4 linked regions of the Homo sapiens genome follow. The protein of the gene in region 1 purifies or fractionates together with the protein of each later gene. This does not show direct contact. Each region holds a gene or a part of one and is shown in the gene's direction. Other genes may lie near its edges.

Region 1 (4,279 bases):
AGAGAAAGGGAAGGAGTGCAGGTGACTGTCCCTTAGCCACCCCAGTCCTGATGACCACAGGCCTCCATGCCAATAAGCCCTGACTAGTGCCACTTGGGTCCAAACATGGCATCTCTGGCCCCAAGGGCTTAGTAGCAAACACCCATCTAGGGAAGCTGGCGTTCATTCTCATCACCTCAAATGCTTCATGAGCCTCAGGGATCAACCTTGAAGTGGGTATAAGGCTGGGAGAATGTTGGGGGCAGCAAACTGAAGGGCACAATAAGAAGCAATAAGGCCACCTCAAAGCCCACCCAAGCAAACTGCTCATTCACCTCCTTCCTTCCTGAATTTCACCTTATGAGGAGGTGAGTGGAAGATAGGGTATCCCTTAAAACATCTAAAAGGAGAGTTGGGGGCAGCAAAGGAGATGTGCTTCACGGGACTCTTATAAACAAAACTGGGGAGAGAAGAATTGGAGGAAGGGGGAAAGACATAGATGAAAGGGAGGGGAAGGTGTGGGAGAGGGAAACGTATAAAAGCTTCCAAGAGGAGTGGGAGGCTGGGGGTTCCCCAGACAGAGACTCAGTCTGGACCAGATGCAGAGAACAATGGACTTCAAGGCTGGAGGGGGGCAGAAGGGAAGCGGGAGGAGAGCCACACGGTCAAGTTGCACAGGTTCTTGCAGCTTCTGGAATCAAGACCATGGGCACCCTCATAAGTCAGTGTGGGCAGGGACTGCCCCAGGGCCAATCCAAGATCCAGAGGTAGCCATAGGGTGTGACAAGTTGTGCAGATTACAACACTCACCCCTTGCAATAACGTCACTGCCTGTGACTCGGGGCCAGGCCCAGGCCAAAGCCCTTCCTACATCATTTCGTTTAATCCTCACAGTTTCCTGCTGAAAGGGCTACTATTCTTACTCCCATCCCCACTCTACAGATGAGGTAATGGAGGCCCAGGAAAGTTAAGTGACTTGTCCCAGATGACACCGCTGGTAAGTTGCAAAGTCAGAATTTGAACTCAGGCAGTTTACCTCTGATGGCTGCTCTGTTAATCACAGCTGCTTTCCAGTGAGACAAAAACGGGTGATCAGGGCAGAGTCAAGACAGAGAGGTAAACAAGATTGGGAAAAAGACAGGAATGAGAGGGGAACAATGGGGGAAAAGATAGGAACAAAGAGAGTTGGGGAAGGGGAGAGAAACAGGAAACATGACTTGCCCGGGAGGGGCATCAGTCCACGTGCAAGCAGGTGGAGGCTCAAGTTTTCTGCTCACTTGGTGATGCAGAGGCTCCCTTTCCCTCAGCAGCCGCCTTGCTGCGTGGACAGCAGCTTCCCATCTGGCCTGTCCCCGGAGCCCCGGCCTCATCCTCCTCAGCGGCAGGCCACTTAGCTTCACAGGAAATGCTCTTTCTCTAATTGGCATTGAAACTCACAGCCCTCCCTTTTCCTGTAGGTGGGGTTTCCATAGGAAAAAGCTGCTTCTCTGTTTCCCCAGCCTAGCAACTGTTTGGCAGTCAGAGTCCCACATCCTGCTCAACTGGGTCAGGTCCCTCTTAGACCAGCTCTTGTCCATCATTTGCTGAAGTGGACCAACTAGTTCCCCAGTAGGGGGTCTCCCCTGGCAATTCTTGATCGGCGTTTGGACATCTCAGATCGCTTCCAATGAAGATGGCCTTGCCTTGGGGTCCTGCTTGTTTCATAATCATCTAACTATGGGACAAGGTTGTGCCGGCAGCTCTGGGGGAAGGAGCACGGGGCTGATCAAGCCATCCAGGAAACACTGGAGGACTTGTCCAGCCTTGAAAGAACTCTAGTGGTTTCTGAATCTAGCCCACTTGGCGGTAAGCATGATGCAACTTCTGCAACTTCTGCTGGGGCTTTTGGGGCCAGGTGGCTACTTATTTCTTTTAGGGGATTGTCAGGAGGTGACCACTCTCACGGTGAAATACCAAGTGTCAGAGGAAGTGCCATCTGGTACAGTGATCGGGAAGCTGTCCCAGGAACTGGGCCGGGAGGAGAGGCGGAGGCAAGCTGGGGCTGCCTTCCAGGTGTTGCAGCTGCCTCAGGCGCTCCCCATTCAGGTGGACTCTGAGGAAGGCTTGCTCAGCACAGGCAGGCGGCTGGATCGAGAGCAGCTGTGCCGACAGTGGGATCCCTGCCTGGTTTCCTTTGATGTGCTTGCCACAGGGGATTTGGCTCTGATCCATGTGGAGATCCAAGTGCTGGACATCAATGACCACCAGCCACGGTTTCCCAAAGGCGAGCAGGAGCTGGAAATCTCTGAGAGCGCCTCTCTGCGAACCCGGATCCCCCTGGACAGAGCTCTTGACCCAGACACAGGCCCTAACACCCTGCACACCTACACTCTGTCTCCCAGTGAGCACTTTGCCTTGGATGTCATTGTGGGCCCTGATGAGACCAAACATGCAGAACTCATAGTGGTGAAGGAGCTGGACAGGGAAATCCATTCATTTTTTGATCTGGTGTTAACTGCCTATGACAATGGGAACCCCCCCAAGTCAGGTACCAGCTTGGTCAAGGTCAACGTCTTGGACTCCAATGACAATAGCCCTGCGTTTGCTGAGAGTTCACTGGCACTGGAAATCCAAGAAGATGCTGCACCTGGTACGCTTCTCATAAAACTGACCGCCACAGACCCTGACCAAGGCCCCAATGGGGAGGTGGAGTTCTTCCTCAGTAAGCACATGCCTCCAGAGGTGCTGGACACCTTCAGTATTGATGCCAAGACAGGCCAGGTCATTCTGCGTCGACCTCTAGACTATGAAAAGAACCCTGCCTACGAGGTGGATGTTCAGGCAAGGGACCTGGGTCCCAATCCTATCCCAGCCCATTGCAAAGTTCTCATCAAGGTTCTGGATGTCAATGACAACATCCCAAGCATCCACGTCACATGGGCCTCCCAGCCATCACTGGTGTCAGAAGCTCTTCCCAAGGACAGTTTTATTGCTCTTGTCATGGCAGATGACTTGGATTCAGGACACAATGGTTTGGTCCACTGCTGGCTGAGCCAAGAGCTGGGCCACTTCAGGCTGAAAAGAACTAATGGCAACACATACATGTTGCTAACCAATGCCACACTGGACAGAGAGCAGTGGCCCAAATATACCCTCACTCTGTTAGCCCAAGACCAAGGACTCCAGCCCTTATCAGCCAAGAAACAGCTCAGCATTCAGATCAGTGACATCAACGACAATGCACCTGTGTTTGAGAAAAGCAGGTATGAAGTCTCCACGCGGGAAAACAACTTACCCTCTCTTCACCTCATTACCATCAAGGCTCATGATGCAGACTTGGGCATTAATGGAAAAGTCTCATACCGCATCCAGGACTCCCCAGTTGCTCACTTAGTAGCTATTGACTCCAACACAGGAGAGGTCACTGCTCAGAGGTCACTGAACTATGAAGAGATGGCCGGCTTTGAGTTCCAGGTGATCGCAGAGGACAGCGGGCAACCCATGCTTGCATCCAGTGTCTCTGTGTGGGTCAGCCTCTTGGATGCCAATGATAATGCCCCAGAGGTGGTCCAGCCTGTGCTCAGCGATGGAAAAGCCAGCCTCTCCGTGCTTGTGAATGCCTCCACAGGCCACCTGCTGGTGCCCATCGAGACTCCCAATGGCTTGGGCCCAGCGGGCACTGACACACCTCCACTGGCCACTCACAGCTCCCGGCCATTCCTTTTGACAACCATTGTGGCAAGAGATGCAGACTCGGGGGCAAATGGAGAGCCCCTCTACAGCATCCGCAGTGGAAATGAAGCCCACCTCTTCATCCTCAACCCTCATACGGGGCAGCTGTTCGTCAATGTCACCAATGCCAGCAGCCTCATTGGGAGTGAGTGGGAGCTGGAGATAGTAGTAGAGGACCAGGGAAGCCCCCCCTTACAGACCCGAGCCCTGTTGAGGGTCATGTTTGTCACCAGTGTGGACCACCTGAGGGACTCAGCCCGCAAGCCTGGGGCCTTGAGCATGTCGATGCTGACGGTGATCTGCCTGGCTGTACTGTTGGGCATCTTCGGGTTGATCCTGGCTTTGTTCATGTCCATCTGCCGGACAGAAAAGAAGGACAACAGGGCCTACAACTGTCGGGAGGCCGAGTCCACCTACCGCCAGCAGCCCAAGAGGCCCCAGAAACACATTCAGAAGGCAGACATCCACCTCGTGCCTGTGCTCAGGGGTCAGGCAGGTGAGCCTTGTGAAGTCGGGCAGTCCCACAAAGATGTGGACAAGGAGGCGATGATGGAAGCAGGCTGGGACCCCTGCCTGCAGGCCCCCTTCC
Region 2 (3,500 bases), on another chromosome or scaffold:
GCCGCCACCACACCTGGCTAATTTTTTTTTTTTTTTTTTTTTTTTTGTATTTTTAGTAGAGACAGGGTTTCACCATGTTGGCCAGTCTGGTCTCGAACTCCTGACCTCATGATCCGCCTGCCTCGGCCTCCCAAAGTGCTGGGATTACAGGCGTGAGCCACTGCACCCCACCACATTTTGGACTTTTTTTTTTTTTTTTTGAGACGGAGTCTCGCTCTGTCATCAGGCTACAATGCAGTGGCATGATCTCGGCTCTCTGCAACCTCCACCTCACAGGTTCAAGCGATTCTCCTACCTCAGCCTTCCGAGTAGCTGGTACTACAGGCGTGTGCTACCATGCCCAGCTAATTTTTTATATTTTTTTAGTAGAGACAGGGTTTCACCATGTTGGCCAGGATGGTCTCGATCTCTTGACCTTGTGATCAGCCCGCCTCGGCCTCCCAAAGTGCCGAGATTACAGGCGTGAGCCACCGTGCCCAGCCCACATCTTGGACTCTTAACAAAAATGCTGAAAAACCTGCACTGTGCTTGGCATAGGGCTGTGCTAGAGATTCAAAGATGAATCATGCAGGGTTCCAATCGTCAGCTCACCACCGAGTCCTGGAGTTACGCCACCACAAAGGCAGACAGTCTGGGGAGTAGGGGGTGTTGGCTGCTGACCCAGGACACCCAGCCCAGGATGGGGGCTGGCGCTGGTCCTGGACTGGCAATGAGCAGGTTCATAGGCAGGAAGTGGCGGAGAGCACAAAGTGGTGGCTGGAGACAGGCAGGATGGGGGCTCAAGGAGGTCGTATGCCCTGTTCCCCTAGAGCCCATGTGTGGACTGATCTTGCGGAGATTTTTGGCCCTGGTGTTCTACATACCTGTCTTCCTGTTTCACCAGGGCCCTTGTTTGCTAGTTACTGTCCCCGGCCCATGAGGTGCTGGCCTCCAGCAGAACCTCTCAGCCAGTCTCAGGGGCTTCCTGTGTGTCTCCCTGAGGCCGGCCCTTTTGGCTTCCTTCCCCCAGGGACTGCTGTGCGCCACTGTGATGAGCACAGGGGGTGGCTCCCCCCAAACCTCTTCAACTGCACGTCCATCACCTTCTCAGAACTGAAGGGCTTCGTAAGTGAACCCCCTCATCTCCATCTTTTCCCTGTCCTTCGTCCTGAGTCTCACTTGCCCCCACTCCCATCTTTGAGAACGGGGCTTCTGGAATTCCAGCCTGTGTGTTCCTGGGCTCCCAGCTGGAGAGGCCGTCTCTCACCTCCTGAGGTCCTTTTGCTCCAGAGTTCCTGCCCTCACTCCTGCTCCTCCGCTCCGTCCTGTCTAGGCTGAGCGGCTACAGCGGAATGAGTCAGGCCTAGACTCAGGGCGCTCCCAGCAGCTAGCCCTGCTCCTGCGCAACGCCACGCAGCACACAGCTGGCTACTTCGGCAGCGACGTCAAGGTGGCCTACCAGCTGGCCACGCGGCTGCTGGCCCACGAGAGCACCCAGCGGGGCTTTGGGCTGTCTGCCACACAGGACGTGCACTTCACTGAGGTGGGGCTTGGAGGATGCAGGGCTGGCTGGTTAGATAGGGGTCATGGTGAGTGAGCCTGCTCATGGCAACCTGGGGGGCAGAGGGGGCCCTCCCATCCCACCTACAAGGAGCTCCCTGCTGGCAGGAGGCCTCCATGAAACCCTGTGACCCCTGGCCCAGCCCTCTTCCCAACCCTTCTCATAGTAACATATGTGTGTTGGGGCATGGTCTGACCCAGAGCAGAGGCCTGCCTGTGGTACCATGGGCTGGGAGGAAGCAGTATCTCAGGACATGTGTGTGGGTCCAGGCACAGGGCTGGGAAGCTCTTATGTAGAGAATGAGGAGGAGGGCTTAGGGGCAGAGCATCCAGTGACCTGAGTGGGCAGTGCGGTCCAGGAGCATTTCAGGGGAGGCAACAGTGAGCACAGAGGGAGGGGCCTGGTGGGGAGCAGGGACTGGCCCGGGCACAGGCCGGGGCTCCATGGTGGGGATGTCAGGTGTGGGTTGTGAGCACACCCACCGTGACCTTGCCCACCCCAGAATCTGCTGCGGGTGGGCAGCGCCCTCCTGGACACAGCCAACAAGCGGCACTGGGAGCTGATCCAGCAGACAGAGGGTGGCACCGCCTGGCTGCTCCAGCACTATGAGGCCTACGCCAGTGCCCTGGCCCAGAACATGCGGCACACCTACCTAAGCCCCTTCACCATCGTCACGCCCAACATTGGTAAGGCTGGTGCCTGGGTTGGGGAGGGGTTTGTGGAGGGAGTCCCCGACAAGAGCGGCTGTGCTGGGGTCCTGCCTGCCTCACAGGTCCGATCTGTGACCATCCCCTTCCTTAGTCATCTCCGTAGTGCGCTTGGACAAAGGGAACTTTGCTGGGGCCAAGCTGCCCCGCTACGAGGCCCTGCGTGGGGAGCAGCCCCCGGACCTTGAGACAACAGTCATTCTGCCTGAGTCTGTCTTCAGAGGTCAGTGGTGGCCATGGATTGAGTTGGGAGCTGGACCCCAGTGTCTGTGCAGACTCCACAGAGAGCAGGGCCCAGCTAAGTGTGACAGTGTCCCCTCCCAGAGACGCCCCCCGTGGTCAGGCCCGCAGGCCCCGGAGAGGCCCAGGAGCCAGAGGAGCTGGCACGGCGACAGCGACGGCACCCGGAGCTGAGCCAGGGTGAGGCTGTGGCCAGCGTCATCATCTACCGCACCCTGGCCGGGCTACTGCCTCATAACTATGACCCTGACAAGCGCAGCTTGAGGTCAGCAGCTAGGGGACAGGTGTGGGTAGGGGTATGGGTCGGGCGGTGAGTGCTGAGGCATGGAGGGGGTCGGGGGCGTCTCCCCAGTCATGTGACTGCCGTGGTGACTGTGCACCTGACTGCCCCACATCAGAGTCCCCAAACGCCCGATCATCAACACACCCGTGGTGAGCATCAGCGTCCATGATGATGAGGAGCTTCTGCCCCGGGCCCTGGACAAACCCGTCACGGTGCAGTTCCGCCTGCTGGAGACAGAGGAGCGGACCAAGCCCATCTGTGTCTTCTGGAACCATTCAATCCTGTGAGCCTGCACTGCCCTCGCCCCCTCAGGCTTCGGGCTGAAAGTCCAGGCCCCTGCATGCCTCACCCTCCTTGTCTCCCTGACCCTGCCTTCCTCACACAGGGTCAGTGGCACAGGTGGCTGGTCGGCCAGAGGCTGTGAAGTCGTCTTCCGCAATGAGAGCCACGTCAGCTGCCAGTGCAACCACATGACGAGCTTCGCTGTGCTCATGGACGTTTCTCGGCGGGAGGTCGGGCCCACAGGGGCAGCTGCAGAGCCGTGGGTGGGCACCCAGGGCACGGGGCTGGGTGCTCAGGTCCTGCCCTTCCTAATTCCCTGGCCCCCTGCCACCTACTCTGCAGAATGGGGAGATCCTGCCACTGAAGACACTGACATACGTGGCTCTAGGTGTCACCTTGGCTGCCCTTCTGCTCACCTTCTTCTTCCTCACTCTCTTGCGTATCCTGC
Region 3 (3,500 bases), on another chromosome or scaffold:
TGTCTACATGTGTTGGCTCGGGGTGGTGGGGGCAAATGGACAGGAAGGAGGCACTGCCCTCAGCTCTCCTTGAGCTTTGGGGGCTGCTTCTGCCACCGCGCCCAACCCTCAGGCTGCCACAGCCTTTCAAATAAACAGTCCCTCTCTGTCTCCCTCCCTCTCTGCCTCCTGCCCGAGTTCTCCTCTCAGGCCCGTGTCAGTTCGCCCTCTCATACCCTCCGCGAGCAGCGCTCACTTCCCCTCTCCAGCTAGGCTCGCCTGCTCTGCCTTGCTCTCACACTCCCTCTCACTCTTAGTCACTCTCTGCCTCTTTTTCTCAAGTCCTTTTGTTTCTCGCACATGCCCGTGCTCTCCCTCTCAGGCTCATTTTCTCTCTTCCTTCCCCTCTTCCTCTCCTGGCTTTTGGTCTCTCTCCTCAGCCCTGTCAGAAGCTGGCAACCCCCCTCCCAAAAAAGAAAATCTCCCAGTGCCTATAAACCCTGCTTAATTGCTTCCTTCTTGGGAAAAAAAAAATCAAAATAAAAGAAGTGGTGGGGCTGGGGGTCCGCTTCCAGGTTCCAAGGTGCGTGCGGCCCGGCCCCAGCCCTGACTGAGAGGGGAAGCGGGAATGGCTGGCCCAAGACTCCCAAGCCTCTTTCCCAAATTGGTGCTGGGGCCTTCTGGGATGCTAGTCCCTGAGTGGCAGGAGCTTCTGCCTCCTTGGCCCCTCCTGTCAGATTTGCCCCATGAGCGCAAGGTGGGGGGATGGGTTTGGTCCTGCTAGAGTTTTTTTTAGGAACCTCTGTGTGTGCGTGTGTGTGTGTGTGTGTGTGTGTGTGTGTCTGAGTTGGGGGGCTGTTATCTAAATGGTCCTAGGCGACCCCTCCCGCAGCCTCTTCCCCTGGGAACTTGGGGCAGCCGGCAGGCCTCACACTTGAGTCCTCAGCCAAGTCCAGCTGCTGCAGTTCAGTCTCTCAGTCCCGTCCTGACCCCTTCCTGCCCCCCACTCAGGTTCCCCCACCTCCAGGGAGTCAGAATGTGCCTGAGATCACATTACAAACATTCCCTACAAGGGGGTGGGGGTGGGGGGGTTCAGCTTGGCATCCAGGACCCTTGACTCCAGCATGGGTGGGGGCAGCTGCAGACCCCAACCCATGCTTGCCTGCTCCAAGCCAAAGTGTTGGCCCCAGCCCCACACAGCTGTTCTAGCTCACAGTCCTGGGGAGGCCAGCTCAGGGGGCCCTTTTCCGGGGTGGTTAGGGACCTGACCTCTTCTACTTTGTGGCTGATTGGCCACAGGTGGGAGCCTGAGAGTGATGGGAATCCAGCAGCTCCTAAAGTCCCCTGTTCCCCTGCCTCCCCTCTCCCACATAGGGCAGCCAGGCAAGGGCAAGAAGGACCTGTGAGGCTGGGGTGGGGACTGAATCAAGGGTTCCCTTTCTTCCCTTGGGCTCTCTGTTGTCTCATCCGCTCAGGTGAATGGGGATGCGTGGGCCCTGGATACTATGGTGCATCACTGTTTTCTGGGGTTAGGGACTAAAGGAGATAGAGTGGGCCAGCCAGGAGGCTGCTAGTTGCCATGGGAACACCAGGTTTGGGGGAGAGTCCACTCTGTGACTATTAGAGGAGCTGAGATACGGGGGTGCTCACCAGCCACATTCTGGGTTCCTTACCCCGCAGACCATAGCAGCCCCTCTTGGGCGTGTTTCACGATCATTGTTTTGGGTCAGGGTGCTAGCAGCCAGGAATGTAAGCTCCTTCAGCTTTTTACTTCTAAATAATGCTGTGTTTGGCATGCTAACTAATAGGCAGGCGGCACCTTGCTACTTACAATGCATTCTCATATATGATCTCATCGAATGCTCCCAACAACCCTGGGAAGTAGGTATTGGTCCCATTTTCCAGATAAGAAGGCATATGCCCGGACAAGGGAAGTGACTTGTCTAAGGCCAGTCAATGACTTGCCTATGGGGGCAGAGCTGTGTTGTGTGCCATTCATTCCTGCTGCCTTGAAATGTAGGAGAGACAGGAATTCAAGGTGGGGTTTGGGAAGAGGCCCTGGCTCCCTGCCCCTGAGTTCCCCTCTTACCTCGCAGGTGTGCAAGCATCTGTCCCTGTGACTCAGGCCCTGTCTGTGTGGGGTGAGCAGTGCTCCAACTTCCTCATTTGACTTTTCTAGGCCTACCTTCCAGGGCTGACTGCTTGGGTGACCTGAACTAAAGGCAGCCAACTCACTGCCTGGCACACTCCCTGCGGAGCTCTGAGTGGCACCTTTGGTTCCTCTCTGAGCTAAGAATCTCTCTTCTCAGGGACCCCACAGAAAGCAGACATCGACATCGAGGAGGGGGGGTATTAAATTCATAATGGACACGAGCCTTAGCCAGGTGGGGCAGAGGGAAGGGCATAGTTCAGTGTAGATGGGGAGGGTGACTTCCTCCAGGACTCTCCTGGCTTCCCTGCCTCTGACAGAGCTGTGTGTGCCAGGACCCAGCTGCTGTTCCTGCCCACCCACGCCTGGGCGGGCACTGCTGGGACATGCCAGGCCTGCTCCTGCCAGCCTCGGGGGCTGGGTGGAGCTGGGGGAGTTAAAGAGGAGCCTTTAATTTGGGGGCTCCCCACCCTAGCTGGGATGAGAACAGACTTGAGCTCTGGCTTGGGGTCTGTCCTCCATTGGTCTTGCCACCCTGGGAGGTGCAGGTGCAGTGGTCGTGGGGTCACTGAATCGAGGTTGAGGCTAGAGGCTTCTACCAGACTTGGGCTTGCATGGCCTAGAACCAGGCTCCCCCTTTGGTCATTCTCTGACCACAAGTTGCTAGAGCCTGAGAGCAGGGTGACAGGGAAAGAAGTATAGACCTGGTGGGATGTGGGCAGCTTTCTGGGCAAGACCCTCCTAGCTGCAAGCTCTCCCTGCCCCCTGTAAATTGTATTCACATGGGTGGAGAAGGGCTTATCCGGAGAAAACAAGGAGGGGGCTGTTGGTTAGTTGGTTTCTGGCCAGTCCAGGGCCTTGGAGGCTACTGTCCCCAACCCCTTCAGGCTTTTCATATCCCAGGATTCTTTGTGGCAGTGATGGCATCGTGGTGCTTCTAAGCTAGGTAGAAAGGCTGAAGGTAGAACTTGGGTTAGGGTAGAGGGGGAAGAGCTGGAATAGCTTAGGCCGCCTCCCCCAAGTCCTTTTACTCCCTGGGGTGGCGCCCTGGGGTCCCAGGGCTATCTGAGGCTGGAGAGGGAAGGCCTCAGGGGTTACCATGGTGACCTGCTTCAGGCTTCCTGCTGAGCCATGTCAATCCCTTTATTTTTCAGAAAAGGGCTTTGTCTGGGGGTGGCCCCAGACAGAAAAGCTTGGCTTGGTCCTAGGGTGGGGGGAAGTAAGGTGGAGGATAAAGAGTTTCACTTCGGGATATCTCTTCCTCCTCTTCCCTTACTCCTACTCCTAATCTGGTAAGAGGGGAGAACTGTAGGGTCCCCCTTTAAAGTATGACTAGTGTTCTACCTAGCTTTGGCCTTCACTCTCACTGGCT
Region 4 (3,500 bases), on another chromosome or scaffold:
CGCGTACTCCATCACGGTAGCCGCCTACACCATGAAGGGCGATGGCGCTCGCAGCAAACCCAAGGTGGTTGTGACCAAGGGAGCAGGTATGCAACCCGCCCTCCTCCCACCCACCAACAGCCCCTTTGCCCCCACTGGCACCAGAGCGTGACTCCAGAGTCCTTGAGCTCACAAGGGCAGGCAGAGGGTGCACCAGGCAGCTGGAACAGTGAGACAAAGGTGTGAGGGCTGCTCAGGTGGGTGTCCAGGGCCCAGCTTGGCCCCCCCCGCCCCTGCCTCCTCCTTTGTCACTCACTTCCTGTCCCCCCGGCTCCCACCAGACAGAAACAGTTAACAGCCACCTCTGACCCCTTTGCCCTCTCAACCTTTACTTGGGCTGTTCCCTCTGCCAGGATACCCCTTCCCCTGCTGGCTGGCTCCTCTTCTGCCTTTAGGTCTCAGCTCAAGGTACACCTGGCCCTGGAAAGCCTTCCCTGATTGCCTCATCCCATAATCTTGATCCTTCTGGGCCCCCTAGTCTCCTGTGCTTCCCCCATCCAGGCTCTGGTCGCCCCGGCTAGGTTGTTATTTCAGGGTGGTGCACCTGTCTTCCCCTACTGCACCAGGAAGCCACCTTTCTCTTGGTGGCCCTGCCTCAGTTTCCCCTTCTAGCCCCTCCATTGTCCCTTCCATCGTCCCCAAGGGGCTGGCTTTTTTTTCCAGCCAAAATGGAGCTGAATTAAGAAAAAGAGGCTGCCGTGAAGATGTAAGGGGAGGGTACACCGGGCGGAGGGCACAGCCCAGAAAAAGACTTGGGGGGTGGGGCGTGGTGGTGGTGGTGGTGGGCGGAACAAGCTCGGGTGTTTCAGGAACAATCGACTGACTTCTGTGGCCTTCATCCCAGTCCCCACACCCACCCTCTCCTCGGGGACCCTTGTAGCCACACCACTGTGTACCCCACCTTTCAGGCCTCCCAGCTGGACACAGCCCCTGCCCTTGTCCACACTATTCCCTTCACGCACCTTGTCTGCGTCCTCCAGCATCCAGCTCTAACGCCACCTCCTCCAAGCAGCCTCCTGTGATCTCTCCCTCCCTTCTTCTAGCCAGCAGGGCACTTCCCTCCTCTCTCAGGGACATTGTATTAGAGCTGTGTTTGCTAAGCAGAAACCACTGCATACGCTGCTCTCCCCACCACCCTGGGTATTCATAGCAGTCCATTCAAGGCCCTGATAAGTCCTGCAGTAGAGAAGTCCATTTTCATGTATACAGCCCAGCTTTCCCCCTTCTTTGCCTGATCCCAGAACCTCTCTCGGCACATTGATTACTACCCAGGCTGTGCGAAACAAAGAGCAGGGGCGGATTTTGGATTTCTTTATGTCCCATGGGTATTGGTCAGGTGCCTGCATTGAGCAAGGGCCAAATCAACAAGGCAGGAGATGGTTGCCTTATTAATGGAAGGAGGAGGGGTTCTCTGAGTCCTCACTTCCTTGCTGTGCTTTATGCGCCCCTAGCCCAGTGCCGGCTCTACACCTTTGCATGGGCCGTTCCCTCTTCCTGGAGCACGATTCCCCCAGATCTTCTCGTGGTTCCCTCTCTTTCTTCTTTCAAGTCTTTGCTTCTTAAGTGAGGCTTTCTTGAGACCTACTTTTATTTTTAAGACGGAGTCTTGCTCTGTTGCCCGGGCTGGAGTGCAGTGGCACGATCTTGGCTCCCTGCAACCTCTGCCTCCTGGGTTCAAGTGATTTTCCTGCCACAGCCTCCTGAGTAGCTGGGATTACAGGCGTGCACCACCACCCCCGGCTCATTTTTGTATTTTTAGTAGAGACAGGGTTTCACCATGTTGGCCAGGCTGGTCTCGAACTCCTGACCTGAAATGATCTGCCCATCTCAGCCTCCCAAAGTGCTGGGATTACTTACAGATGTGAGCCACCACACCCAGCCTTGAGATCCACTTTTAAAAATCACAACCCCAGGCTGGGCACGGTGGCTCACACCTGTAATCCCAGCACTTTGGGAGGCTGAGGCGGGTGGATCACCTGAGGTCAGGAGTTCAAGACCAGCCTGGCCAATATGGCGAAACCCCATCTCTACTAAAAATACAAAATTACCCAGGCGTGGTGGTGTGTACCTGTAATCCCAGCTGCTCGGGAGGCTGAGGCAGGAGAATCCCTTGAACCCGGGAGGCAGAGCTTGTAGTGAGCCGAGATGGGGCTACTGCACTTCAGCCTGGGCAACAGAGCAAGATTCTGTCTCAAAAAAAAAAAAAAAAAAAATCACAACCGCAGCTGGGTGCAGTGGCCTTATAATCCTAGCACTTTGGGAGGCCGAGGCAGGAAGCTCACTTGAGCCCAGGAGTTCGAGGCTGCAGTGAGCCGTGATCTCACCATTGCACTCCAGGCTGGGCAACAGAGTAAGACCCCCCCCAACTCAAAAAAATGTTATATTGAAGGAAAAGAATTAAAAATACAACCCCACCTTGTGCCTCTGGGCTGGCGGATGGCGCTGGGACCCTGACACCTGCCCCGTATCCCCGCAGTGCTGGGCCGCCCAACCCTGTCGGTGCAGCAGACCCCCGAGGGCAGCCTGCTGGCACGCTGGGAGCCCCCGGCTGGCACCGCGGAGGACCAGGTGCTGGGCTACCGCCTGCAGTTTGGCCGTGAGGACTCGACGCCCCTGGCCACCCTGGAGTTCCCGCCCTCCGAGGACCGCTACACGGCATCAGGCGTGCACAAGGGGGCCACGTATGTGTTCCGGCTTGCGGCCCGGAGCCGCGGCGGCCTGGGCGAGGAGGCAGCCGAGGTCCTGAGCATCCCGGAGGACACGCCCCGTGGCCACCCGCAGATTCTGGAGGCGGCCGGCAACGCCTCGGCCGGGACCGTCCTTCTCCGCTGGCTGCCACCCGTGCCCGCCGAGCGCAACGGGGCCATCGTCAAATACACGGTGGCCGTGCGGGAGGCCGGTGCCCTGGGCCCTGCCCGAGAGACTGAGCTGCCGGCAGCGGCTGAGCCGGGCGCGGAGAACGCGCTCACGCTGCAGGGCCTGAAGCCCGACACGGCCTATGACCTCCAAGTGCGAGCCCACACGCGCCGGGGCCCTGGCCCCTTCAGCCCCCCCGTCCGCTACCGGACGTTCCTGCGGGACCAAGGTAGGCGCGCGGCGACCCCTGCACCAGAGCCGGACCGGGCCTTGCGCCCACCCCCACCCCAGCCCCCTCCCTCTCCCCTGCCCAGGTAAGTGCTCACTTTTCTGCTTCCTCGTGGTCACTCAAGGCAAGTCCGGACCCCGAGGCTCCGGCGTTGGCAAAGGTGGGACGTGCCTCGGTGGCACCACCGCCCCCCACCACTGCCCCCTCCCCTTGCTCCCCTCCCCCCTCTTCCTCCTCCTCCACCTTCTTTCTGCAGCCTCTGCACCCGTGCCGTCTCCCGAAGCAGGGACTTGGGACAGGACAGGGCAGGGCCGGGCCAGGGCCAGGCAGGAAGGCCGTGGGCATGGGCACAGCGGACGACAGGGAGCGCCTGGGC

What was found. Proteins that work in one complex are often made in the same cells at the same time.
Region 2: the proteins of PCDH12 (region 1) and CELSR2 purify together in Homo sapiens (affinity purification with mass spectrometry; 2 studies listed by BioGRID and IntAct, with this or other methods). This does not show direct contact.
Region 3: the proteins of PCDH12 (region 1) and EFNB1 purify together in Homo sapiens (affinity purification with mass spectrometry; 2 studies listed by BioGRID and IntAct, with this or other methods). This does not show direct contact.
Region 4: the proteins of PCDH12 (region 1) and PTPRS purify together in Homo sapiens (affinity purification with mass spectrometry; 2 studies listed by BioGRID and IntAct, with this or other methods). This does not show direct contact.

The regions. Positions count from the first base shown.
Region 1 is NC_000005.10:141,955,403-141,959,681, reverse strand, and holds the start of PCDH12 (protocadherin-12 precursor), read left to right. Parts: upstream 1-1,479; 5' UTR 1,480-1,830; coding exon 1,831-4,279. UniProt on the Homo sapiens protein: Cellular adhesion molecule that may play an important role in cell-cell interactions at interendothelial junctions. Acts as a regulator of cell migration, probably via increasing cell-cell adhesion.
Region 2 is NC_000001.11:109,266,539-109,270,038, forward strand, and holds part of CELSR2 (cadherin EGF LAG seven-pass G-type receptor 2 precursor), read left to right. Parts: intron 1-1,009; coding exon 1,010-1,104; intron 1,105-1,312; coding exon 1,313-1,522; intron 1,523-2,042; coding exon 2,043-2,226; intron 2,227-2,341; coding exon 2,342-2,470; intron 2,471-2,571; coding exon 2,572-2,752; intron 2,753-2,885; coding exon 2,886-3,053; intron 3,054-3,155; coding exon 3,156-3,282; intron 3,283-3,394; coding exon 3,395-3,500. UniProt on the Homo sapiens protein: Receptor that may have an important role in cell/cell signaling during nervous system formation.
Region 3 is NC_000023.11:68,832,021-68,835,520, forward strand, and holds part of EFNB1 (ephrin-B1 precursor), read left to right. Parts: intron 1-3,500. UniProt on the Homo sapiens protein: Cell surface transmembrane ligand for Eph receptors, a family of receptor tyrosine kinases which are crucial for migration, repulsion and adhesion during neuronal, vascular and epithelial development.
Region 4 is NC_000019.10:5,222,313-5,225,812, reverse strand, and holds part of PTPRS (receptor-type tyrosine-protein phosphatase S isoform 1 precursor), read left to right. Parts: coding exon 1-86; intron 87-2,515; coding exon 2,516-3,124; intron 3,125-3,500. UniProt on the Homo sapiens protein: Cell surface receptor that binds to glycosaminoglycans, including chondroitin sulfate proteoglycans and heparan sulfate proteoglycan.